2 separate regions of the Homo sapiens genome follow, and region 2 is linked to region 1. Evidence: fine-mapped expression QTL. A gene starts in region 1. The other region holds a variant in brackets. All regions are shown on one strand. Distances are between the middles of the regions.

Region 1 (16,192 bases):
CTGGGAATAATGGCGATTTCCTCGCACACGCGCTTGTTCGTGTGGAAGTCTTTGCCCAGGCGCATGTAGTACTTTTCTATGATGACCCGGGCCGCCTTCTTTACTTCACGGTTTTGGTGCGAACGCGCCCCATGTTGGTGGGTCCTTGGTAAAATAGCTCTTTTTTTTTTACGTTAAAGTTGCAATTACATTAAATACAGCATGTTACATTTGTTTGAGTGCATCGTTTTTGTTGTTGTTGTTTGTTTGTTTGTTTGCTTGAGACGGAGTCTCCCTCTGTTGCACCAGGCTGAAGTGTAGTGGCACGATCTCGAATCACTGCAATCTCCGCCTCCCGGGTTCAAACGATTCTCCTGCCTCAGCCTCGCGAGTAGCTGGGACTACAGGCGCGTGCCACCATGCGGGGCTAATTTTTGTATTGTAGTAGAGACGGGGTTTCGCCATGTTGGCCAGGCTGGTCTCGAACTCCTGACCTCAGGTGATCTGCTCAACTCGGCTCCCCAAAGTGCTGGGATTACAGGCTTGAGCCACTGCGTCCGGCACCGCGCTTTTTTTTTTTTTTTTTTTTTTTTTGAGGTGGAGTCTGGCTCTGTCACCCAGGCTAGAGTGCAGTGGCGCAATCTCTGCTCACTGCAACCTCCACCTCCCCGGTTCAAGCGATTCTCCTGCCTCAGCCTCCTAAGTAGCTGGAACTACAGGTGCGTACCACCATGCCCAGCTAATTGTATTTTTAAGAGACAGGGTTTCAACATCTTGGCCAGGCTAGTCTGGAACTCCTGGCCTCAGGTGATCCACCTGCCTTGGCCTCCCAAAGTGCTGAGATTACAGGAGTGAGCCACTGTGCCCAGCCAATTTGCTTTTTTTCACTCAACTTTTTATTTATTTATTTATTTTTTTTTTTTTGAGACGGAGTCTGGCTCTGTCGCCCAGGCTGGAATGCAATGGCGCGATCTTGGCTCACTGTAATCTCCACCTCTCAGGTTCAAGCGATTCTCCTACCTCAACCTCCTGAGTAGCTGGGATTACAGGCTCGTGCCACCATGCCTGGCTTTTTTTTTTTTTTTTTTTTTTTTTTTGTATTTTTAGTAGAGATGGGTCACCATGTTGGTCAGGCTGGTCTTGAACTCCTGACCTCGTGATCTGCCCGCCTGGGCCTCCCAGAGTGCTGGGATTACAGGCGTGAGACACCACACCAGGCCTCATTCAACACTTTTTTCAAAAGCCATCCATGATACATATAGATTTGATTCATTCCCTTTCTTTCCTGAACATTCTATTTATGCAACTCATTTTATTTATTCATTTCCTTATTATTATCATTTTTATTGTTGTTGTTTTGTTTTTGTGTTTGAGACAGGGTCTCACTATGTCACCAAGCTTGAGTGCAGTGGCATGATCTCTGCTCACTGCAGCCTCAAACTTCTGGGCTCAAGCAATCCTCCCACTTCAGCCTCCCAAGTAGCTGGGACTACAGGAGTGCGCTACCACGCCCGGCTAATTTTTTGTATTTGTAGAGAAGAGGTTTGGCCATGTTGCCCAGGTTGTATTATTATTATTTTTTTGAGACAGGATCTCACTCTGTCACCCAGGCTGGAGTGCAGTAGCGTGATCACTGCTCACTGGAGCCTCCACATCCCTGGCTCAAGAGATCCTCCCACCTCAACTTCCCAATTTGCTGGGACAACACGTTCGCCATAATGCCCGGCTAATTTTTGTATTTTCTGTAGAGACAGGGTTTTGCCATGTTGCCCAGGCTGGTCTGGAACTTCCTGGGCTCAAGCAATCCTCCCTCCTTGGCCTTCCAAAGTGCTGGGACTACAGGTGAGCCACCTGTATCCATTTCCTTACTGATGAATATTTAAATTGTCTCCAATTTTCTGTTATTCAAATGCTGAGGCAATGAACAGTCTTGTCCATGTTTTCTTCAACACGTGTAATGTTTCTCTAGGATTCACATCTAGAAATGGGATTGTTGGGTTATATACGGTGTTCTCTAGTGCTTTTTATTCTTCTGAGTTACAAAGCATTTAAACTGCATTAAGTTGTTAAGCATTTCCACTGAGTAGTTTTAGATACATAGTATTTTACCAACCCTTATTTAGGAGCTCATGGCTTTTATCAATTTTAATCTAAATGAACTCTCACATGGTAAAGCAATTCACAGTTTACAGAGTGCCCATGTCATTTCAGATTATCTTCCCCATGTGTCTAACACCTACTTTTAAAAATCGTTATTGTTGTCTGGGCGGGGTGGCTCACGCCTGTAATCCCAGCACTTTGGGAGGCCAAGGCAGGTGGATCACCTTAGGTCATGAGTTCAAGACCAGCCTGACCAACATAGTGAAAAACTCATCTCTACTAAAAATACAAAATTAGCCGGGTGTGGTGGCGCACGCCTGTAATCCTAGCTACTCAGGAGGCTGAGAATCACTTAAACCCGGGAGACAGAGGTCGCAGTTAGCTGATATCGCGCCACTGCACTCCAGCCTGGATGACATAAGAGTGAGACTCTGTCTCAAAAAAATTAAAGAAAGGAAGAAAATAAAGAAAAAATATGGGTGGGGCATGGTGGCTCAGGCCTGTAATCAGAGCACTTTGGAAGACCAAGGCAGGGAACTGCTTGAGCCCAGGAGTTCTAGATCAGCCTGGGAAACATACAGAGACCCTGCCTCTACAAAAAAAAAAAAAATGTAAGGCTGAGGCCGGGAGCAGTGGCTCACAACTATAATCCCAGCACTTTGGGAGACTGAGGCAGGTGGATCATCTGGAGTCAGGAGTTCAAGATCAGCCTGGCCAACATGGGGAAACCCAGTCGCTACTAAAACTACAAAAATTAACGGGAGTGGTGGCTCACAGCTGTAGTCCTTGCTACTTGGGAGGCTGAGGCAGGAGAATTGCTTGAACCCGGGAGGCGGAGGTTGCAGTGAGCCGAGATCGTGCCACTGTACTCCAGCCTGGTTAGCAGAGCAAGACTCCATCTCAAAAAAAAAAAAAAAAAAAAAATTAAGACTAGGTGCAGTGGCTCACACCTGTAATCCCAACACTTGGAGGCCAAAGTGGATGGATTGCTTGAGGTTAGGAGTTCAAGACCAGCCTGGCCAACTTGGTGAAATCCCATGTCTAATAAAATACAAAAATTAGAGCCAGGTGTGGTGGCTCACGCCCATAATTCCAGCACTTTGGGAGGCTGAGGCCGGCGGATCACAAGGTCAGGAGTTCAAGGCCAGCCTGACCAACATAGTGAAACCCCGTCTCTACTAAAAATACAAAAAATTAGCTGAGCGTGGTGGCCAGTGCCTGTGATCCCAGCTACTCAGGAGAATGGGGCAGGAGAATCGCTTGAACCAGGGAGGCGGAGGTTGCAACGAGCCGAGATCATGTCACTGTACTCCAGGCTGGGTGACAGTGCAGGACTCCATCTCAAAAAAACAAAAACAAAAAAAGAAAACACAAAAATTAGCTGGGTGTGGTAGTGGGCGCCTGTAATCCCAGCTACTCTGGAGGCTGTGGCAGGAGAATTGCTTGAATCCAGGAGGTGGAGGTTGCAGTGAGCCGAGATGGTGCCACTACACTCCAGCCTGGGCGACAGAGGGAGACTCTGTCTCAAACAAACAAAAAAATTAAAGAAGTGTCTGGGTCTACTGGCAGGTGTCTATAATCCTACCTACTAGGCAGACTGAGGTGGGAGAATCGTTTGAGCCCAGGAGATCAAGGGTGCAGTGAGCCCTGATTGTGTCACTGCACTCCAGCCTGTGTGACAGGTGACAGGCAAGCCCCTGTCTCAAAAAAAAAAAGCTGGAATGAAAGGTGGAGTCAGAGAGCAAAAAATTGTCAACTATGTGTCCAGTACAGTTAGGAGCGTTCTTTTTTTTTTTTTTTTTTTTTTTTTTTTTGAGACGTAGTCTTGCTGTGTCGCTCAGACTGGAGTGCAGTGGCACTATCTCAGCTCACTGCAACCTCTGCCTCCTGGGTTCAAGCAATTCTCCTGCCTCAGCCTCCTGAGTAGCTGGGATTACAGGTGCGCGCCACCACCAAGCCCGGCTAATTTTTTGTGTTTTTAGTAGAGATGAGGTTTCACCCTGTTAGTCAGGTTGTTCTTGAACTCCTGACCTCGTGATCCACCCACCTAGGCCTCCCAAAGTGCTGGGATTACAAGCATGAGCCACCACACCCAGCCCAGTTAGGAGCTTTCTGAGAAGAGGTTGGAGACAGGAGAGGGAAAAAGCCTTTGCTGACCAGATGACCAACGTATTCTGATCTGAATCCAACTCTCTGGTTATAACTTGATTTTCCAGCTATTGTGATTTTTTTCAACAATTATATTCCTGTTGTAAATAAATAAATTGGCAAGCTGCTTAGTTTGTTTCTTGTGAGTCTTATTAGCAAGAGTCTGTTCCCTGGAATCCTCTGGGTACACTTGAAAAGTCAGTTCTGGACCAATGTGATGCCATGGAGATATCTCTGTAAAACTCTGTCTGATGGCTAGCTGACATCTACTTCTAAACCAGTTTCCTCGAGAACATTTACTCTTTAGGAATTCATGCTCTAAATTTAAAAACAATGCATCTAAAAATGTCAAGTCTAGGGGTAAGCAGTTTTAGAATATTTCCTTCAATTTTCTTATTTGTTTTGTTTTTGGGTATAGTGTAGATATGTTAGATACACACTTCTTGCCTTCCATCAGACTAAGAAAACAAAGTTGAATGAGACCAAGATTCATGTCCTGGTTTTATGGAAGTTTTCCTTGTAATTTTACTTATTTATTTATTTATTTTTATTTTTATAGACATAGGGTCTTGCTATGTTACCCAGGTTGGTCTCTAACTCCTAGGCTCAAGGAATCCTCCCACCTCAGCCTCCTGAATTGCTGGGACCACAGGAGGGCGCCACCACCCGCGGCTAATTTTTTTTTTAAATCTTTTTGTAGAGAGGAGGTCTCCTCATGTTGCAAAGGCTGGTCTCAAACTCCTGGGCTCAAGCAATCCTCCTGCCTTAGCTTCCCAAGATTACTGGTGTGAGCCACCATGCCCTGCCCATAAGGTTTTATTACATACAGTCACACCTATTGTGACAGATACCTTCCGGTCTGGCAAGCCCAAGCCCAGCTTATTCACTACGGTCCTTACAGATAACACTTGCCAACACCCTTCTTGGACTTGTGCCAGAATTGCTGTCCTGCTGGTCATCTCTTGGGCCTCTCTCTTGGATCCCCCATTCGTCCACGAGCTTCTGGGTGGTGACACCTGGGTTTTGTTGTTGTTTTTTGAGACCGAGTCTCGCTTTGTTGCCCAGGTTGGAGTGCAGTGGCACAATCTTGGCTCACTGCAACCTCTGCCTCCCGGTTCAAGCAATTATCCTGCCTCAGCCCTCGAGTAGCTGGGATTACAGGCGCCCACCACCACACCCGGCTAATTTTTGTATTTTTAGTAGAGATGAGGTTTCACCAGGTTGGCCATGGCTGCTCTTGAACTTCTGACCTCAGTGATCCACCCGTCTCGGCCTCCCAAAGTGCTGGGATTACAGGCGTGAGCCACTGCTCCCCGCTGACACCTGGGTCTTAGTAAATTCCCCTAAGGCCTGCTCTGCTCTTAAGGACCAGGGCTTTTGTCATCAGATCTGGGCTCAAATTCTGCGGCTTGGAAAAGTCGATTCGCTATTTTTTAAAATTTTTAATTTAAAAAAAAGTATTTTTTATTTAGAGACAGGGTCTCGCTCTGTCGCCCAGGCTGGAGTGCAGTGGCTCCATTACAGCTCACTGCAGCCTCGGCCCCCGGGCTCAAGCGATCCACTGGGACCACAGGCGTGCTCCACTACGTGTTGCTAGTAGTAGCAGTAGTAGTAGTAGTAATAGTAATAGTAGTAGTATTTTTGGTGAGAGAGGGTTTCGCCGTGTTGCCCAGGCTGGGTCTCGAACTCCAGAGCTCAAGGGATCCGCCCGCCTCGGCCTCCCAAAGTGCTGGGACTGCAGGCGTGAGCCACCGCGCCCGGCCGATTCCCCCCTTTATCCCTCAATTTCCTCATCTGAGCAATGGAGATACAGGTAGGGCTGAAGGTCAGGCAAGAATGCGATGAGCTGTGAGAAGCACTTGGCAAGGTGCGGGTTATCAACCTTGCCAGGCCTCAGCACGTTTCCCAAGGAGGCCCAACCAGCGGCGCTGTGCCGCAGCACGGAAGAGGCGGGGTGAGCCGCGGGGCGGGCGGCGCTGGGACCCGGACGCCACCCGCGCGAGGCGCCGCCGTGCGCCCGTCAATCAAGGTCGTCGTGGGGCATGGGGCGGCGGGGCTGGGCGGTGCTTCCGCCTGCGCGAGGCCGCGCCGGGCCGCTTGGAGGCGCCCGGTGCAGTCGGGAACCCGCGCTAGGTTTCGCCGGCCGCGCGGCCAGATGAGGGGGGCGATGGAGCTGGAGCCTGAGCTGCTGTTGCAGGAGGCCCGCGAGAACGTGGAGGCAGCGCAGAGCTACCGGCGGGAGCTGGGTCACCGGCTTGAGGGGCTGCGTGAGGCGCGGAGGCAGGTCGGAGGGCCACACCCACAGGGGCGCTGTGGGCCCGGGGGTGGCGCGGATGCCGGGCGAAGGCTGGGAGGGCTTTGAGGGGTGGGACTGTCCGAAAACTCTGGAGTAGGGAAGAGGCATTCATTTGAAAGGAGACCTAATGGAGTCTGGGAACGGGGAAGGTGGGAGTTGGGGAGGTCGTAAGGGGAAGTTTTGGGGGTGGAGGGAGGGTGTGAGGAGCGTTCACTAAACTGTGGGGCAGCGATGGGAGTAGCGGTGGCCTCCGAAGTTTGGGAGAGTGAGGGACCAGAGCAGAATCCGAGGGGGTCATGCGGGTAGTGATGAGTCGGGGGAGGAGGAGACTGGTAAAAAACCTGCGGTGGGTAGGCGGGGAGGCATTGATTTTAGAGAGCCTGAGGAAGAGGTGGGACAGTGACCTGGGAGAGCTGAAAGTGGAGACAAAATGGATATTGGAAGGGGAGGACTAAGGGGCGAGAGTGAGGGAGAGGTAGGGATTGAGAAGCAGTAGCATTTGACAATAAATGCGGTTAATGCCTGAATAATATGTCATACGATCTTGAATGCTTTTTAAAAAATCATTTAGAGTAATCCTGTTCTAGAAGGTTTAAAATTTAAGGTGAAGGTGAAGCTATGTTGGAAGAGCAGAAGGAAAATGATTTCCTTTTCCTTGAGAGAGGGAATACAAAGGTATAGAGAAATGGAAAAATAGATTTTAAGAGAGGAGTGCTGAAAGGAAAAGCTAAATATAATTTCAAGTGGTGCAGTTATCTGTTTCACAGGGCAAGAGTTATCAAAGATACAGGAAAGCCATATGGTTTCTCTATACCCTCGAATATATATAGAAAAAGATATAACCCGCTGCCAATTGGCGATAGGACGGATAATCTTCAGAGTACTATTAACGCAACTGCTTAATAAGTGCTTTTTGAGTGAGTGGGATTCCATCTGAATTTCTCTGGGTCATACTTGATATTAATCTAGTTGGTCGTCTTAGCACTTCCTTGCTGCATATAACCTGAAAATGGTAGAAAAGTGCTGTGCTAACAGTGTCTTTGGATATTCTCATCATTAACGACTCAACATGTTTTGGGTTTTATATATATATATAAAACATATACAAACATATATAAGTATGTATATATATAATCTGTTTTTTTTGAGACGGAGTCTGGCTGTGTCGCTCAGGGTGGAGTGCAGTGGCACTATCTCGGCTCACTGCAACAACCTCCGCCTCCCGGGTTCAAGCGATTCTCCTGCCTCAGCCTCCTGAGTAGCTGGGATTACAAGTCTGCGCCACCACACCCGGCTAATTTTTGTATTTTTAGTAGAGAGGAGGTTTCACCAGGTTGGCCAGGATGATCTTGAACTCCTGACCTCGTGATCCACCTGCCTCAGCCTCCCAAAGTGCTGGGATACAGACGTGAGCCACCGCGCCCGGCCGGGTTTTATATATTTAAAAATATTTGTAAAGCCAGTGTAGGCCAGACATCATTTGCATTTTAGTGGCGAAACCGGAAGCAGAATCTAGATATGATTATGCTGATTTGGTGAATACTTTTCAAGGCCTTTCAATGCACTCATCTCTATTTCTCTTTGAAAATATCTGCATTATTCCTTCTGCTATTTTGAAATAGGGACTCTAGATGTAAGACATTGTATGAAAAGAAAGATATTAAAATACCATCTAACATTTCAGTCAGTTAAGATGTATTCTATATGACCATGATTATTGTTTTTGTATTAGCAATTAAGAATCAGAGTTGACACTAAATGAGTGAGTTTAGCACCTGGGAGTAATTAATTTCTCTTGATATTGGATGCATTAAAAAAAATCGTGATTACACCCTAGATGGTTCAGTATTCAATTTTCAAACCTGTATTTTTTCAATTTTATATCCAACAATTTAAATACAGGACATGCTTTTCTGTGGTTTAGTTTATTATGAGCTTTGTTTTGTTTTGTTTTTGAGGCCCATTGTCTTGGGCTTCAGACAGAAAACACTAAATGAACATCGATCACAATTAGGTTCCTGATGACATTGCCTTCTGACTAGACTGAGTAATAATGTAGTTCTCTTTTGTGAGTGTGAGTCTCTTTTGGGAATGTGTTTTGTGCCAGTGGCAGTTACAACAGCATCTCTCGAAGCTAACTCTAGTGGATTGTGCATGTTTGGGTTTGTGGCATAAGTCCTCTGTCAACTTGCATTTTAAGGAAGGTCTATGGTACAAAAATATTATCAAAGTAAGCAGCTGCTTTTGTTTGGTGGTTTGGATATTTTTAGGGTTCCAGTCATTTTCAGAATAACTGTAAAATATATGGCACTTTAGTCAAGGATTTTGCATGGGAGAAGCATGAGAAGAGCAGAGAGGAAGGGATGCCACCTGTCGTCTGTATTTTTTACTTGCTGATTTTATATCTTTTTGGCAGATGATTTCTTTTCTTTTTTTTTTTTTTTTTTTGGCGGGGGTGCGGACAGGGTTTTGTTACGTTTCCCAGGCTGGTCTCCAACTCCTGGGCTCAAAAGATCCTCCCACCTCTGCCTTCCGGTGATGGAATTACAGGTGTGAGCCACTGTGCTGCCTGGCATGTGACTTTTTTTATTGAGATATAATTCACACACCGTAAAAGTCATGCCTTAAAGTTTACAATTCAGTGGTTTTTAGTATATTCATAGAGTTGTCCAACCATCACCAGTGTCTAATTCAAGTATATATTCATCACCCCCAAAAGAACTCCTTAGCTGTCACTCCCATACCCCCTGGCAACCACAAAACTACTTTGTCTCTATGGATTTGCCTATTCTGGTCATTTCATATAAATGAACTCATACAGTATGTAGCCCCTTGTGACTGACTTCTTTGACTTAGAATAATGTTTCAAGGTTCATTGATGTGGTAGCATGTAACAGTACTTCAAACCTTTTTATGGCTGAATAATTGTTATGTGGATATACCACATTTTATTTATCCATTCATCAATTAATGGACATTTGGATTATTTCCACTTTTGACTATTATGAATAATGCTTCTGTAAAGAATTTGTAGACAACTTTTTGTGTGGACATGTTTTCAGTTGTTTTAGAATATAGCTAGGAATTGGTGGATCACATGGTAACTTTTTGTTTAACCTTTTCAGAAACTCTTGGCATACTTTTTTTCCTTTTTTCTTTTTTTTTTTTTTTGAGAAAGGACCTCACTCTGTCACCCAGGCTGGAGTGCAGTGGCACAATCTCAGCTCACTGCAAGCTCTGCCTCTCAGGCTCAAGTGATCCTCCCATCTCAGTGTGCCGAGTAGCTGGGACTACAGGCACGTGCCATCACCCCTGGCTAATTTTTTGTATTTTTGGTAGAGATGGGGTTTTGCCATGTTGTCCAGCCTCCTGGGCTCAGATGAACACCCACTTTGGCCTCCCAAAGTGTTAGGATTACAGGCTTGAGCCACCGCACCCAGCCTCTTTTTTTTTTTTGAGCCAGAGTCTTGCTCTGTCACCCAAGCTGGAGTGCAGTGGCATGATCAGAACTCACTGCAGCCTCGACTTCCTAGGCTCAAGCCATCCTCCTGTCTCAGATCCCCAAGTAGCTGGGGCTATAGGTACACACCACCACACCTGCCTAATTTTGTTTAATTTTTTTTAGTAGAGATGATGTCTTCCTGTGTTTCCCAGACAGTTTCTTCCTTTTTTTTTTTTTTTTTTTTTGAGAGAGTCTCGCTCTTTTGCCCAGGCTGGAGTGAAGTGGCACAATCTTGGCTCATTGCAACCTTCAGCTCACTGCAACCTTAGGCTCACTGCAACCTCCGCCTCTTGGGTTCAAGAGATTCTCCTGCCTCAGCCTCCCGAATAGCCAGGATTACAGGCGTCTGCCACCATGCCCATCTACTTTTTGTATTTTTACTAGAGACAGGGTTTCACCATGTTGGCCAGGCTGGCCTCGAAGTCCTCACCTCAGGTGATCCTGCCCACCTCAGCCTCCCAAAATGCTGGGATTACCACCGTGCCTGGGTGAGCCACCGTGCCCAGCTGCCAGGCCGATTTCTAACTCCTGAGCTCAAGCAATCCTCTTGCCTCGGCCTCCCAAAGTACTGGTATTACAGGTGTGAGCCACTGCATCTGGCCTACCTTTTGTCTTTGCTTTAGTTTCTTATCCTTTAAACTCTAGCATGAAATTTGTCTCGTATTGAGAAATCATGTTGTATGAACATTTAGAAGGAAGAAGAATAAAAATGTTTTTAAGTTATTCTGTCAAAACTGCCAACATGTAGCAGTTTCTCCTCTTGTGGTTAAGTTTGGGCTCTACCCTCTGTTTTCAGAGAAAAGGAAGTTCTGTGTAGGAATGCAAGGATTGTCTGTTAACTCTTAATGTTTGAATAAGTTAAAGGCTAGAAAGCTGTTCATTGTCTTCAGGAAATCAGATAATGTTTACAGCCAACTTGGCCTAGCTGATGTTGAAATCATTAAGAATAGTTCTCTATAGCTCACTGGAATCCTTGGTACTAAGATGTAAATACCAAAGAAATTAACTCCCACTGTCCTTAAATATTCATTTGTTCATTCACTCAATAAATATTTATTGGGTGCCTACTGTAGGGCTGAGAAACTTCTAGGTCCTAGATTCTGTGTTCAAGGAAATAGATCACTGCCCTCATGGATTTATGCTTTCCTCTTTCCTTTGGTGGCTGATACTTAGGTTACTACCCCTAAAAACAAAACAAGTAAGAAAAATATAAGTTCTATTTGTGTATTCATTTTTATATTTCACTTCTATTATATCTTTCATCACTTGTCCTATTTCTACAGCATTGGCCTTTCTGTTTGTTATAAGTAGAGATCCAGCCTGGCCAATATGGTGAAACCCCGTCTCTACTAAAAAAATACAAATTAGCCAGGTGTGGTAGCGTGCACCTGTAGTCCCAGCTACTCAGGAGGCTGAGCCAGGAGAATTGCTTGAGCCGGGCAGGCGGAGGTTGCAGTGAGCCAAGATCACACCACTGCACTCCAGCCTGGGCGACAGAGCGAGACTCCATCTCAAAAACAAAAACGTAAGTAGAGATAACTGATCAAAATGTCACGTAGTGATGTCAGCTGGCCACTCAGGCCTCACAGAGTGGCACCACCTTGATGACAATGCCAAAGTCAGGGCCTGGTCTTTAATCTTTGTAAGTCCAAAAACTTCATCTTGGTACATTATCAAAGGGGAATTAGTTGAGGTACTGGAGGTGTCTACAGTGAGAAATGCCAGTATTTTAGTCTGTGTGTTGTAGTTCACTCTATAAAATGACTATGTTGGCTTTCATGTACCTTTTGGTATTCTGATTCAGTATTTCTCAGGACACTGACAAAAGCAAGTCTCTGCTCCTTCAAGAGCAAATGGTAAGATCCTGGTACCTAATTAAGATACTAGTTGGTGGCTGGGCTCAGTGGCTCACGCCTGTAATCCCAGCACTTTGGGAGGCCGAGGCGGGTGGATCACATGAGATCAGGAGTTTGAGACCAGCCTTCAACATGGCAAAACTCTGTCTCTACTAAAAATGTAAAAAAAATTAGCCAGGTGTGGTGGAATGCACCTGTAATTCCAGCTACTCTGGAGGCTGAGGCAGGAGAATTGCTTATACCTGGGAGATGGAGGTTGCAGTGAGCCAAGATGGCACCACTGCACTCCAGCCTCAGCAACAGAAGAAGACTGTCTCAAAAAAAAAAAAACACTCAAAAGTTATTTCAAAAAACCAAGACAGGAAGTCTCAGTAGCTTAGCAAAGAAAAGAAAGCTGTTGGCCAGGCGTGGTGGCTCACACCTGTAATCCCAGCATTTTGGGAGGCTGAGGCGGGCGGATCACCTGAGGTCAGGAGTTTGAGACAAGCCTGACCCATACGATGAAAACCTATCTTTACTAAAAATACAAAAATTAGCCGGGTGTGGTGGTGGGCGCCTGTAATCTTAGCTACTCGGGAGGCTGAGGCAAGAGAATTGCTTGAACCCAGGAGACGGAGGTTGCGGTGAGCCGAGATCATGCCACTGCACTCCAGCCTGGGCAACAGGAGTGAAACTGTCTCAAAAAAAAAAAAAAAAGGAAAAGAAAAGAAAGCCATTATTGCTCCTTTTATCTCCCACTTCCCCTTCTGTTACCCATTTTGAAAACACTACAAAAATCTGTGTATAATTTGTTACAGTAGTAGTATTTAAAGTGTCCCTATTATAGTATTCTAAGAAAAGGTTAAATCCAGATACAGGGAAAACCAAGAACAGATGAAATAATTTTTTTTTTTTAATGAAGTTTCGCTCTTGTCGCCCAGGCTGGAGTGCAATGGCTCAATCTTGGCTCACTGCAACCTCCACCTCCCAGGTTCAAGCAATTCTCTTGCCTCAGCCTCCTGAGTACTTGGGATTACAGGTGCCCGCCACCACGCCCAGCTAATTTTTGTATTTTTAGTAGAGACGGGGTTTCACCATGGTGAAGGCTGGTCTCAAACTCCTGACCTCAGGTGATCCGCGCATCTCGGCCTCCCAAAGTGCTGGGATTACAGGCATGAGCCACCACACTCAGCCCAGATGAAATAGTTTTAAAATAACCTACTACTTACAGACAACTGCAGTTAACTTTTTTTTTTTTTTTTTTTTTTTGGGATGGAGTCTCACTCTGTCGCCATGCTGGAGTGCAGTGGCGCCATCTCGGCTCATTGCAACCTCTGCCTCCTGGGTTCAAGCCATTCTCCTGCCTCAGCCTCCTGAGTAGCTGGGACTACAGGCGCCTGCCACCACACCCAGCTAATTTTTGTATTTTTAGTAGAGATGGGGTTTCACCACGTTGGCCAGGATGGTCTCCATCTGTTGACCTCATGATCCACCTTCCTCGGCCTCCCAAAGTGCTGGGATTACAGGCTTGAGCCACCCTGCCTGGCCTGCAGTTAACATTTTGATGTATCTTTCTATACATATTATTCTGCAAAGTTGAGAGACTACTGTATATGCAACTTTGTATCAATTTTTAATTTTTATTAACATTATAAGCATTTTGTTAGCATTATAAGAATTTTGGTAACATCATAAGCATTTACAAGAATATTTTTCCCATGCAAAGCTTTTTTTTTTGAAGACGGTCTCACTTTGTCACCCAGACTGGAGTGCAGTGGCACCACCTTGGTTCACTGCAACCTCCACCTCCCGGGTTCAAGCAATTCTCCTGCCTCAGCCTCCTGAGTAGCTGGGATTATAGGCGCATGCCACCACACCCGGCTCATTTTTTGTATTTTTAGTAGAAGGAGGTTTCACCATATTGCCCATGCTGGTCTTGAACTCCTGAGCTCAGGCTGTCCACCCACCTCGGCCTCAAAAAGTGCTAGGATTACAAGCGTGAGCCACTGTGCCTGTCCCACAGCCTCATTTTTAATACAGAGGTGGAGTCTATTGTAGATATTTAAAGGAACATTTGTTGGTGGTAGGTTGCAATGTATTGATTCTGGTACCCCAAAATACTGGAAGCAAAACTAATTGCAAATAAGGGGGGTAAAAATAAAAGCCACACATATACAGTCAAAACAACAGGGATATATTCTCAGAAATGTGTCATTGGGCGATTTTGTCATTGTACAAACCTAGATGGTATCATCTGCTACACACCTAGGCTATATGGTATATTCTATTGCTCCTAGGGTACAAGTCTGTACAGCATGTTACTATACTGAATACTGTAGATAGTTGTAACATAACTGTAAGTGTGCATCTAACATAGAAAAGGTGCAGTAGGCATGCTGGCTCACACTTGTAGTCCCAGCACTTTGAGAGGCCAAGACGGGAAGATCTCGAGCCCAGAAGTTTGAGACCAGTCTGGGCAATATAGGGAGACCCCCATCTCCACAAAGAAATTAAAAATTAGCCAGGTGTGGTGGTGCATGCCTGTGGTCCCAGCTACTCGGGAGGCAAAGGTGAGAGGATTTATTGAGCCCAGGAGGCTGAGGGTGCAGTAAGCCATGATCACACCACTGTACTCCAGCCTCGACAACAGAACTAGACCCTGTCTAAAAAAAAAAAAAAAAAAAAGAAAGAAAGAAGATACAGTAAAGACATAAAAATATAGTAATATAATGTTATGGGACTACCATTATGTATGTGATTGTCATTGTCCAAAACATCATTATGTGATGCTTGACTGTATTTGTTTGCAAAAGACCACATATTTACATTGGTTTTTGAGTCAGTCTTTTCACCAATAAATCTTTTTACAAGTTGTCTTTTTTTTTTTTTTTTGAGATGGAGTCTTGCTCTGTCACCCACGCTAGAGTGCAGTGGTGCGATCTCGGCTCACTGCAACCTCTGCTTTCCGGGTTCGAGTGATTCTCCCACCTCAGCCTCCCGAGTAGCTGGGACTACAGGTGCATGCCACCATGCCCGGCTAGTTTTTCTATTTTTAGTACAGACGGAGTTTCACCATATTTGCCAGGCTGGTCTCGAACTCCTGACCTCGTGATCTGCCCGCCTTGGCCTCCCAGAGTGTTGGGATTACAGGTGTGAGCCACCATGCCCGGCCTACAAATTGTCTTTTTTTTTTTTTTAACTTTTTATTTCCTGAACAACACCAATGTACAGAAATCATCTTTAAATATGGTACTCTGAAAGCTGCTGGTTGAGTTTAAAACTCCCCAGAAATATAGAAGGAGGTCAAGGAGAATTAAAACAAGCCATTCTGGCCGGGCTCAGTGGCTCACACCTGTAATCCCAGGATTTAGGGAGGCCAAGGCGGGCGGATCACCTGAGGTCAGGAGTTCGAGACCAGCCTGGCCAACATGGTGAAACCCCGTCTCTACTAAAAATACAAAAAAGTTAGGTGGGTGTGGTGGTGCGCCTGTAATGCCAGCTGCTCAGGAGGCTGAGGCAAGAGAATTACTTGAACCTGGGGGTTAGAGGTTGCAGTGAGCCGAGATTGCGCCACTGCACTTCAGCCTGGGCAACAGAGTGGGACTGCATCTCAAAAAAAAAAAAAAAAAAAAGAAGAAACTAGCCATTTTCTGGTCGGGCAGGGTGGTTTACTCCTGTAATACCAGCACTTTGGGATGGCAAGTTGGGTGGATTACCTGAGGTCAGGGTTTCAAGACCAGCCTGGCCAACATGGTGAAACCCCATCTCTACTAAAAATACAAAAAGTTGGCCAGGCGCAATGGCTCACACCTGTAATCCCAGCACTTTGGGAGGCCAAGGCGGGTGGATCACCTGAGGTCAGGAGTTCGAGACCAGCCTGGCCAACATGCTGAAACCCCATCTCTACTAAAAATTCAAAAATTAGCCAGGCTTGGTGGTGGGTGCTTGTAATCCCAGCTACCCGGGAGGCTGAGGCAGGAGAATTGCTTGAACCTGGGAGGCAGAGGTTGCACAGAGCCAAGATTGCGCCACTGCATTCCAGCTTGGGCAATAGTGCAAGACTTCATCTCAAAAAAAAAAAAAAAAAAAGAAAGAAAGAAAAAAGAAAGAAAAAAATGTGTGTGAATGTTATAGAGGTATGTTTTTGTGTGTAGATTTTTTTGTTTTTTAAAGACGGAGTTTCGCACTTGTTGCCCAGGCTGGAGTGCAATGGCGCAATATTGGCTCACGGCAACTTCCGCCTCCCGGGGGTTCAAGTGATTCTCCTCCTTCAGCCTTCCGAGTAGCTGGCATTACAAGCATGTGCCACCACACCCGGCTAATTTTGTATTT
Region 2 (12,176 bases), 41 kb after region 1:
AAAGTGCTGGGATTACAGGTGTGAGCCACTATGCCCGGCCCCTCCTCCCCATACTTCTTTAGACTGCTCAGATATGAAATAACTTCAGAAACCTACCCAAATATTATGATCCTGCATGTTTGCTATTTCACAATCAATGACATTTTGAGGCCACATTGACTATAAATAATCACATCTGTCTTTGGAAAAGCCACATTTTGTTTCACACTAATTTTTTTTTTTGTCCTTGCAAAGTTGGCTTTCTGGATGGAGAGAATGATGTGTCTGGCAATAGGGATCTGTACATTTCCTATTTCAAGAGCACACAAAGTACTGACATCTGAAATGAAAACACAAAAGGAAAAGCTTAAACTTGCCACATAGGAAGTTCTTCATGCTTGAATAGTGTCTTCATAACCATAATGGGATTTTTTAGGATTATAATAGTTCTTTTTAAATGCTTTATTTACTTAACAAATAGTAATCAAATCATTGCAAATTCTTATATGGAAGATTTAGGCGCTGGCAGCAATAGTTACATAAATTATAATGTCAACTATGACAAACCTTCTATGTGTCTAGAGCTAGAATATAAAATAGAAGTGTGCCATCATGGCTACAAATGGTTAAGAATATAGATTCTAGGCCGGGCACGGTGGCTCACTCCGTAATCCCAGCACTTTGGGAGGCCAAGGAGGGTGGATCACCTGAGGTCAGGAGTTCCAAGACCAGCCTGAGCAACATGGTGAAACCGTGTCTCTACTACAAATACAAAATTAGGCCAGGTGTGGTGGCTCACGCCTCTAATCCCAGCACTTTGGGAAGCCGAGGCAGGCGGATCACCTGAGGTCAGGAGTTCGAGACCAGCCTGACCAACATGGTGAAACCCCGTCTCTACTAAAAATACAAAACTAGCCGGGCATGGTGGTGCATCCCTGTAATCCCAGCTACTCAGGAGGCTGAGGCAGGAGAATCGCTTGAACCAGGGAGGCAGAGGTTGCAGTGAGCTGAGATCGCGCCATTGCACTCCAGCCTGGGCAACAAGGATGAAACTCCATTTCAAAAAAATAGATAGATAGATTGATTGATTCTAGAGTCAGAATGCCTGTGTTTGAGTCCTGGTTCCACCAGTCATCAGCCAGGTAGTCGGGATCAGGTTATTTAGCTATTTTTAATCTTTTTTTCTTTTCGTGCCTCATTTTCCTCACTTATAAAATGGGTATGTTAAAAATAGCACCTACCGGCTGGACGCAGTGGCTCACGCCTGTAATCCCAGCACTTTGGGAGGCCGAGGTGGGTGGATCACAAGGTCAGGAGTTCAAGACCAGCTTGGCCAAGATGGTGAAACCCCATCTCTATTAAAAATAGAAAACTTAGCCGGGTATGGTGGCGGGCACCTGTAATCCTAGCTACTTGGGACGCTGAAGCAGAGAACTGCTTGAACCCGGGAGGCGGAGGTTGCAGTGAGCCAAGGTCGCACCACCGCACTTCAGCCTGGGTGACAGAGCGAGACTCCGTCTCAACAAAAAAGAAAAAGCACCTACCTCATAGATTGTTGTAAGAATGATAGATAGATATAAAATAATTAGAACAGTGCCTGGAGTATAGCAAGAACTCAATCATGGTTGCTGTACTATTTAGAAAAAAACAATTGTGGTGAGATTGCTCTTTTTAAGCTAGTGGCTGTTAAGTATCATTCATGTTATATTTTTAAAAGTATGAAATGACCTTTCTACTTCATTTACAGAGTTGAAACTGTGGGACAGCCAGACAGAAGAGATAGCATAGGAGTGTGTGCAGAAAAACAGGATGGATATGACTCTCTGCAGCGGGATCAAGCTGTGTGCATTAGTACAAATGGTAAGAGATAAATAACTGTCATTCTCTTGGAAATATATTAATTATTTTAGTAATATGTGAATCTGTTCCAGTTCCATACATTTATAGTAGGAGATGAGAAAATTTAGGTATTTTTCTTTTTCTTTTTTTTTTTTTTTATTATGAAGTCTCACTCCATCACTCAGGCTGGAGTACAGTGGCATGATCGTAGCCCGCTGCAGCCTGAAATTCTTGGGCCCAAGCCATCCTCCCACTTCAGCCTCCTGAGTAGCCGGGACTACAGGTGCATGCCACTGTGACTGGCTAATTTTTTTTATTTTTACTTTTTTGTAAAGATAAGTTGTTGCCCAGGTGAGTCTTGACTCCTGGTTTCCAGCAATCCTCCCACCTTGGTGGCCTCCCAAAGTGCTGGGATTACAGGCGTGAGCCACCGTGGCTGGCTGAAAGTTTTGGTCTTAATGACATAATTTATGTGACTACCATGTACCAGGCATTGTTCTAAATTCTACAAATAATAAATCATTCAGTCTACATCCCTAGTGCTCTTTAAAAATCGCTAGCCAGAGGCCGGGCGCGGTGGATCACGCCTCTAATCCCAGCACTTTGGGAGGCCAAGGCGGGCAAATCACGAGGTCAGGAGTTCAAGACCAGCCCGGCCAACATAGTGAAACCCTGTCTCTACTAAAAATACAGAAAATTAGCCAGGTGTGGTGGCGGGTGCCTGTAATCCTAGCTACTTGGGAGGCTGAGGTAGGAAAATCGCTTGAACCCGGGAGGCGGAGGTTGCAGTGAGCCGAGATCATGCCAGGTAACAGTGTGAGACTCCGTCTCAAAAAAAAAAAAAAAAAAAAAAATTCACTAGCAAGACATGTTAATAATATTTTGTGGTGTTGGCTGGGCACGGTGGCTCACGCCTGTAATCCTAGCACTTTGGGAGGCCAAGGTGGGTGGATCACAAGGTCAAGAGATCGAGACCATCCTGGCCAACATGGTGAAACCCTGTCTCCACTACAAATACAAAAATTAGCTGGGCGTGGTGGTACATACCTGTAATCCGAGAGGCTCAGGCAGGAGAACTGCTTAAACCTGGGAGGTGGAGGTTGCAGTGAGTCCAGATCATGCCACTGCACTCCAGCCTGGGCAACAAGAGTGAAACTCTGTCTCCAAAAAAAAAAAAAAAATTGTGTTGGTGAGTCAAGAATTCGGTAGAACAAGATTCTTTCTTGTTTATTCCATAAGAAATAGTCTTGCTATTTCACAGGAGGTAATTTTGTAACACTGTCAAGTTTCTTTTGATGACACTGATATGGGAAACTCATAGTCTCTGCTGGAAGAGTACAACCCTGGACAGAACTCTAAAATCTATGTCCAGTTGGCATTCCAGATTTTTTAAAATCTGAATTAGGAAATGAGCTGTGTTACCAGTAATCTAGAAACTATTTCAGATCTCTTAGTTATTGCTCACATGTAAATGACTCTTTACCTTAACATTTTAGGTGCAGTTTTTGTCAATGGAAAAGAAATGACAAATCAGTTACCCGCAGTTACTTCTGGGTCCACTGTCACGTTTGACATTGAAGCCGTGACTCTAGGAACCACCAGTAATAATGAAGGTGGACACTTCAAGCTTCGAGTAACTATAAGTTCAAATAATAGAGAAGTGGTTTTTGACTGGTTACTTGATCAGTCTTGTGGTTCTCTTTACTTTGGATGCTCATTTTTCTATCCTGGATGGAAAGTGTTAGTGTTTTAGATGTTTGGGTGCTTGGCTTTGGTTTTCAGGGTCTAACGTAGCTGTCCTCAGCCCAGCGTAGTTGTAATTGCTTTAAAAAAAAAGTTGAATT[C/T]ATCTCTAACTTAGGCCATTGGAAAGTGTTTACTGGATTCATTTTGTAATATTTTAGCAAAAAGAGACTTCAATGTTGTGGACAAAATCATACAATTCAGTCAATTTTATTTTTAGCATACTGTTAAATATCACATCACAATAAAAATCAAATTGGCATTAAAAGTATAGAAGATATAGGAAGTTCTATACCCTTCCACTGTACTTCTCAAAGTTGGTTATTAGACCAGGAAAACTTAATGTAATATTATTTTTAAAATCATCTTAAAGGATCCAAGTCCATGTAACTCTTTAGAACAAGAGGAATAGGTCAGATAGAAGAAGCTGTGTAATGTATTAATACATCCGTTCATGTGCTGTCCACATGAATGTGTTGACTGTGCTCTCCATGTTCAGGTATTTGTAAGCAGTGTTGACTTTTATCCCCTCTTCAGTAATCTTTAAGTCCCCAAAACATTATAACTTTTTCTTTTTTTGTTGAGACGGAGTCTCACTCTTGTCACTCAGGCTGGAGTGCAGTGGTGTGATCTCAGTTCACTGCAACCTCTGCCTCCCACGTTCAAGCGATCCTCCTGCCTCAGGCTCCTGAGTAGCTGGGATTACAGGCGTCGGCCACCACACCTGGCTAATTTTTGTATTTTTAGTAGAGACAGGGTTTCACCATGTTGGCCAGGCTGGTCTTGAACTCCTGACCTCAGGTGTTCCACCCACCTCAGCCTTCCAAAGTGCTAGGATTACAGGTGTGAGCCACTGCAGTGGACCAATTTTTGTATTTTTTTAAATGCTTGACCAAGTGTCTAAAATAGGCAAGTAGTACCTTTTGTTCTTTCATTGCAATTTGATACAGTATAGGCTACAGTATTTTTACAGGGTAAAACTAGTTATGGCAGTAGTATGCACAGCAGTGTTAGCCATTTCATATGTATGTAATATGCACGTGTGTATCCAATCTGCCTGTGACATGCATTTTACTCTTTGCAGAGAATGAGCTGCAGTCCAGTTTAATGTCAGTTTAATAAGTGGTCTCTTTTTAGCAGAGCAAAAAAATATAGCGTAAATACTTATTTTTTTTAAAAACTTACTTAAATTTGTGTGTAAAATATTTATTTGAAGGACTTTAATATGTAAAAATAATTGTCTTCTATGCCACCCTACAGATTTTATTTTAATGTGAATTATTTTTTTCATTTCATTTTTACCAGTATAGTAAAAAAGTAGAAAAGCAAGTATGATATTTTTGTAAGATAATTTATTTGGGGATTCATGTTCCCTGTTAGACAATCATGACCTTTTCTACTTGTCTTTTTATATATAAGTAGTAGATTTCCACTTGTTTAGGGATTAAGAAGATGTTCTAGAATGTAGATACCTTGTCCAGCCATAGGAATCAAAATAAAAAACTAAAAAAGTTCAGTGTGTGTACTTTTTTCTTCTGTGAGATTTGGTGAATCCAGTTTTAACCTACTTTTCATTTGAAGGGAAAACAGGCTTCTTGTGGCTCCAGGCATTTTAGTAAGATATCACTGTGACTTGTGAAAGGGTATGTGTACCTTCTTGTACTTTCTTTTAAAAACTTTTTTAAAAATATTTTTTGTAGAGAATGAGGGTCTTGCTGTGTTGTCCAGACTGGTCTCAAACTCCTGGCCTCAAGCAGTCCTCCCCAGCCTTGGCCTTCCAAAGTGCTGGGATTATAGGCATGAGTGACCACACCCAGCTGGTTACTTGTACTTTCCTATATTCTGTGTCTGATACTGAGCATCTTGCCTGACACAATGTGTGCAGAATGAATGGTGGATCGAATGAGTCGTTTTCTCCAGATATCTTCATCTCATTCCTTTAATTCATCAAATATTTGTTGAATGTATTTATTTCTTAGCCTCTCTAGGGAAATGACATCTTAATTTATACCTATAGAATCTGCCTGTTCACAGGAGTGCCTTAAACCTAATTTGAGACAGGAGTGGTAATATTTGGAACTCTGAAACTAATTTTTTTTGAGACAGAATCTCACTTTGTTACCCAGGCTGGAGTGCAGTGGTGCAATCTTGGCTCACTGCAACCTCTGTCTCCTGGGTTAAACGGATTTCCCTGCCTCAGTCTCCCAAGTAGCTGGGATTACAGGTGTGCACCACCACACCTGGCTAATTTTTATACTTTTAGTGGAGATGGGGTTTTGCCATGTTGGCCAGGCTGATCTTGAACTCCTGGCCTCAAGTGATCCTCCCACCTTGGCCTCCCAAAGTGCTGGGATTACAGCCGTGAGCCACTGTGTCTGTCCTTGAAACTAATTTAAATACTGACTTTTTTTCTTGAACTGTGAAGATTTTTTTTAAAAAAATGAACTCATTAGCTGGGCGTGATGGCTCACGCCTGTAATCCCAGCACTTTGGGAAGCCAAGGCAGGTGGATCACCTGAGATCAGGAGTTTTGAGACCAGCCTGGCCAACATGGTGAAACCCCGTCTCAACTAAAAATGCAAAAATTAGCTGGGCATGGTGGTAGATGCCTATAATCCCAGCTACACAGGAAGCTGAGGCAGGAGAATCACTTGAACCCTCCGGGAGGTAGAGGTTACAGTGAGCTGAGATCACATGATTACAGTCCAGCCTGGGCAACAAAAGCAAAACTTTGTCTCAAAAAAAAAAAAAAAAAAAAAAAAAAAAATCATTCTGTTCAAGTAAGTAAGGGAACCTAGTACTCCAAACCTATGTGCTAGGAGGGAAGAGTTTGTGTGATGATATGATCACAAGAATTGATTTTTTGGCTGGGCATGGTGGCTTATGCCTAGCCATTTTTTATTCACTTAAAAAAAAAATTTGGCTGGGTGTGGTGGCTCACACCTGTAATCCCAGCACTTTGGGAGGCCTAGGCTGGTGGATCACCTGAAGTCGGGAGTTCGAGACCAGGCTGACCAATATGGTGAAACCCTGTCTCTACTAAAATTACAAAAATTAGCTGGATGTGGTGGCGCACGCTGGTAGTCCCAGCCACATGGGAGGCTGAGGCAGGAGAATTGCTTGAACTCGGGGGGTGGAGGCTGCAGTCAGCCAAGATCTTGGCACTGCACTCCAGCCAGGACAACAGAGCAAGACTCTGTCTCAAAAAAAAAAAAAAAAAAAAAAAAAATTTAGCCAGGTGTTGTGGTGCCCACCAGTAGTTCCAAAGCTACTCAGGAGACTGAGGTGGGAGAATTGCTTGAGCCTGGGAATTCGAGGTTGCAGTGAGCCTAGGCAACATTGGTAGACCCCATCTCTTAATAAATAAACACAAACAAAACAAAGAAATAGAGCAACTAGATAGATAACAAAAGCAAAATCCCCTGGATAATATCTACAGTAAGACTAGGTGACCACTTACCCCCTCAAATCCCAAAATACAAGCTAGTGAAGACGAACTACAAACAGATACAAGACCTGCATGATCTCAGTGTCTGTGCAGGATGAAGAAGGCGCAAAGCCTGACAGATGTGATGACAGGCGAAACCCCATATCATCGACTGGAACTCCTGGAAAGCACCATGGAACAACTGAAAAGTAGCAACTGAAACTCTAGAAATTTGTTTCCCTCCAATACCAGATGAATGCAAGTGGGCCATGCGTGGTAAATGTGTTCAGGGGTGCTTAAGATCACTTTCACTTTCAATTATTTGCCAGGACTCACAGAACTCAGAAAAGCTCAGAACACTCATGGTTACTATTTAGTAAAGCAAAAAGACACAAATTAAAATTAGCAAGTTTGGCCGGGACTGCTGGCTCACACCTGTAATCCCAGTACTTTGGGAGGCCAAGGTGGGAGGATTGCTTGAAGCCAGGAGTTGAAGACCAACCTGGGCAACATGATGAGACCCCCATCTCTACCAAAATAAATTTTTTTTAATTAGCCAGGCATAGTCAGGCATTAGCCAGCTACTCAGGAGGCTAAGGTGGGAGGATCACTTGAGTTCAGGAGCTTGAGGCTACAGCGAGCTGGAGTACAGTGGCAAATGTAGTTCGCTGTAAAAATAAATGGCCAGGCACAGTGGCTCACGCATGTAATCCCAGCACTTTGGGAGGCCGAGGCCGGCAGATTACGAGGTCAGGAGATGGAGACCATCCTGGCTAACACGGTGAAACCCCGTCTCTACTAAAAATACAAAAAAATTAGCCGGGCGTGGTGGCAGGCGCCTGTAATCCCAGCTACTCAGGAGGCTGAGGCAGGAGAATTGCTTGAACTTGAAAGGCAGAGGTTGCAGTGAGCCGAAATTGCACCACTGCACTCCAGCCTGGCGACAGAGCAAGACTCCATCTCAAAAAACTATTTAGACTAGAATGTAGTAAAAGTGTGTTCAGAGACTAGTTTGGACACAGCACTCCACAGGAATTTATCTTATAAAATACTTGATACAGGTTCAAGTATAATCACTATTAACATTTTTGACAAGATTTTAAAAAATCAAATAACCCACTTATCTATTAGACCAGCACTGGTTTAGTCAATTAAGGAACCCAAAAAAACAAAACAAAACAAAAAAACTCAGAACGTTTAAAAAGAAGTAAATCTATATGCTCTGACTTAAAAGGATGCCCATTTTACAGGGTTAAGAGCTTCCAGATAGGCCGGGCACAGTAGCTCACACCTGTAATCCCAGCACTTTGGGACTCCAAGGTGGGTGGAAAACCTGAGGTCAGGAGTTTGAGACCAGCCAAGCCAACATGGTGAAACCCCCAGGCGTGGTGGCGCATGCCAGTAATCTCAACTATTCAGGAGGCTGAGGCAAGAGAATTGCTTGAACCCAGGAGGCAGAGGTTGCAGTGAACCGAGACCGTGCCATTGCACTCCACCTCTGGGTGACAGAGCGAGACTCCATCTCAACAGAAAAAAACAAAAAAAAGGCCAGGCCGGGCACGGCGGCTTATGCCTGTAATCCCAGTACTTTGGGAGGCCGAGGTGGGCGGATCACAAGGTCAGGAGTTCGAGACCAGCCTGGCCAACATGGTGAAACTCCATCTCTACTAAAAATACGAAAATCAGCTGGGCATGGTGGTGCGCGCCTGTGATGCCAGCTACTCAGGAGGCTGAGGCTGGAGAATCGCTTGAACCTGGGAGGCGGAGGTTGCAGTGAGCCAAGATCGTGCCACTGTACTCCAGCCTGGGTGACAGAGTGAAACTCCATCTCAAAAACAAAACAAACAAACAAAAAAATCCAAAAACAACAACAAAACCAACAACAACAAAAACCCTTCATATATATAATCCTTATAGTCTCATGAATAAAAACATACTTTAAAACAAGAAATTTAAAATGAAAAAGATCATAAAGATAAATCCATACAGAAAACCCAAAGAGTATAGATAAAAATTATTTGAAATCTCATCACCTGGAGTTAACCACGATTATAAATTTTAGAAAGAGGGAAAATATATATATATATATATATACACACTTATGTAAAAATTTAATATGGAAATCTTGTCAAACTATCATCCTTTTTAATAGCTTTTTAGATTTAACGTGTTTCTAACGTTTCATTATTTAAAAAATGCTGAGAAAACCTGTTACCTACATCTTTTGTTAACAAGTTACATTGTGACAAAAATATAAAATTTGAATTGTTAAAGACTATATATACAATTTTAACTTTATATATATTGCCAGTCTGCCCTATAGTAAGACTGTATCAACCTTTTTTTTTTTTTTTGAGACAGAGTCTTGCTCTGTCTCCCCGGATAAAGTGAAGTGGCAAAATCTCAGCTCACTGAAACCTCTGCCTCCCAGGTTCAAGTAATACTGCTAAGCCTCCCAAGTACCCAAGTAGCTGGGACTACAAGCACCTGCCACCATGCCTGGCTAATTTTTGTGTTTTTGGTAGAGATGTGGTTTGACATGTTGGCCAGGCTGGTGTCAAACTCATAACCTCAGGTGATCCACCCGCCTTGGCCTCCCAAACTGCTGGGATTACAGGCATGAGCCACTGAGCCCGGCCCCCAACTGTTACATCAAAATATTATTTGAGAGTATATGTGTCCTCACGTCCCTAAAACACTAGAAACTGTCAAACTTTTAATCTTTGTCAAACTCTCAAAAGTAGTATCTCTGCATTTGCATGCCTTTGAGTACTAATAAGGTTGAGTACTGCTTTAAAAGTTTGCTGGCCATCTCTTTGTTTTTTTAAGAACTGCGTGATAGTCCTTCACACATATTTCTTATTAGACTGTGTATCTTTTTGTTTCATAATTCACAATATTATGTATTCATATTAGCATTTTGTGTTACAGATATTTCCCCCATTCCATAATTTGTTTCTAACTTTAGATATTTTGCAGTATAAAAATGACTAATTTTAACCCGACAATTTTTACTTTATGCTTTCTTACTTTTCAATCATCCTTAGAAGGGTCTTCCTCACTGCAATATATTAAATATATTAACATTCACCTATTTTTTTTTCCATGCTTATGAATGTTCATTTTTACATGTTTATGAGCCTTCCAGAATGTATTAGGCCTAAGATTATTTCCAGATGACTGGAGAAGAGTTGTCACAATTAATGAACAGTTTCTCTTTCTCACATAGCTATACCAACACCTTTATCATAAACTATTTCAGGACTATGCCTGAATAGATAAGCATATCTATTCCTATGGTTATACCATAGGGTTTAAGTTCTCTTAACTTTATGGTATGTACAACGGTATATTGTATATCATACTAAAACTGGTAAGTAAAAATTCTCAAAATATTTTTCTAAAATTTCCCTTAGTATTACTAAATACTTATCCTTTTAGATTAACTAGGAACTAATTTTAAGACTTAAAAAAATCCTTATGAGATTTTGCATCGGATGGTACACTGACCTAACATATTTAGAAATAAAAGACATCATTACAGTTTTGAATCTCCCTATTTAAGAAATGTATGGATTCCTCTTTATCTCTTAAGAGTTATTTTAAGTATGCTTAATCTAAATTCTGCAGATTTCTTGATAAATGTATTACTAGTCATCCCTTATTATCTGCCATTACAATGAATAGAATTTAAAATAGCCGTTAACATTTATTGAGCACTTATTGTATGCCAGGCACTGTACTAAATATTTTATTATTTCATCTAATCCATCAATTCTATGTCTCATGTTACAGGTGAAGAAACTGAGACATGGATAAATAACTTGCCAAATGCCACATAGCTAGGAGCAGAGATTTCAATCAGGCAGTCTGGCTCTCAAAGTATGATGCCTTCCGTGTGGCCGGGTGCAGTGGCTCATGCCTGTAATCCCAGCGCTTTGGGAGGTCAAGGTGGGCGGATCACAAGGTCAGGAGTTCCAGACTAGCCCGGCCAACATGGTCAAACCCCGTCTCTACTGAAAATAAAACAAATTAGCCAGGCGTGGTGGCACGCACCTGTAATCACAGCTGCTCGGGAGGCTGAGACAGGAGAATCGCTTGAACCCGGGAGGTGGAAGTTGCAGTGAGCTGAGAGCATGCCACTGCACTCCAGCCTGGGAAACAGAGCAAGACTCCCCCTCAAAAAAAAAAAAAAAAAAGGAATGATACCTTCCGTTAAATGCTCTGACTAGATCATTTACTTGTGTTTTTTAAAGTATAAAAAACAAAGGCCTCTACTTCCAACATGAATTAGCATTTGGGGAAGAAAACATCAATCAAAAATGGGAGTTCATAACTATAATGTGCTCAACCTTCTAAGTAGTCCATAGCTTCCCATCAAGAATAGTCTCCCATGTTGCTCTTTTCTTGCTTATTGGACATTCTTCCATTTCCTGCATGGCTACTTCATATTCCCCATCTAAAAGCTGTAAGCGCCTGTTAGACAAACACATATACTTTAAAGTAACCTGTGTTATTACTATAAGTACACAAATTCTACATCTTTAGATTTATACTAAAACCATTTATTAAATTTATAAACTAGCTTACATACTCAACAAGATTTTAAAAATACAGCTACACTGCAGTCCTGATGAAAGCAATTTTAATGATGTACACTAAAAACTGTATTACTAGGAATTCATTACTGTAGCTACTCAGATATAACTCTAAACATGTAAAGTATAATATGCCTGAGGTCTCAAAACCTGGTACGTTGTCAACATTAAATATAAAGCATAAGTACAGGCTTTATTTATTTATTTATTTGAGATGGAGTCTTGCTCTGTTGCAACCCAGGCTGGAGTGCAGTGGTGCAATCTCCACTCACCATAATCTCTGCTGCCCAGGTTCAAGCGATTCTCCTGCCTCAGCCTCCCGAGTAGCTGGGATTACAGGCGCGTGCCACCATGCCCGGCTAATTTTTGTATTTTTAGTAGAGACGGGTTTCAGCATCTTGGCCAGGCTGGTCTTAAACCCCTTCCCTCGTGATCCACCCACCTCAGCCTCCTAAAGTGCTGGGATTACAGGCATGAACCACCGCGCACAGCCCAGGCTTTATATTTTTAAAAATAGGATAACAGTGTTACAATGCTTGTCTTAGGGAAACACTAAGAATTCTGTTACCTTTAACTACTGTAATTGTTTGAAC

What was found. PIP is the estimated chance that this variant, and not a neighbour inherited with it, causes the effect.
Region 2: its variant is fine-mapped to the expression of CRLF3 in tibial artery (GTEx, PIP above 0.99).

What each region holds. Positions count from the first base shown.
Region 1 is chr17:30,814,842-30,831,033 of GRCh38, reverse strand. CRLF3 (cytokine receptor like factor 3) reads left to right here and starts at 6,342. Exons shown (of 8, transcript NM_015986.4): 1 at 6,342-6,511. The coding sequence starts at 6,383. It also overlaps the pseudogene RPS17P3. RefSeq lists enhancers at 1-108, 6,049-6,343 and a silencer at 6,051-6,430.
Region 2 is chr17:30,775,582-30,787,757 of GRCh38, reverse strand. It overlaps CRLF3 (cytokine receptor like factor 3), which reads left to right. Exons shown (of 8, transcript NM_015986.4): 7 at 1,727-1,839; 8 at 3,315-5,074. The coding sequence ends at 3,571. It also overlaps the pseudogene SUZ12P1. Among named protein-coding and RNA genes, the nearest start is that of CRLF3, 43 kb to the left of the region's middle. The variant C/T (reference allele first, on the strand shown) is at 3,663.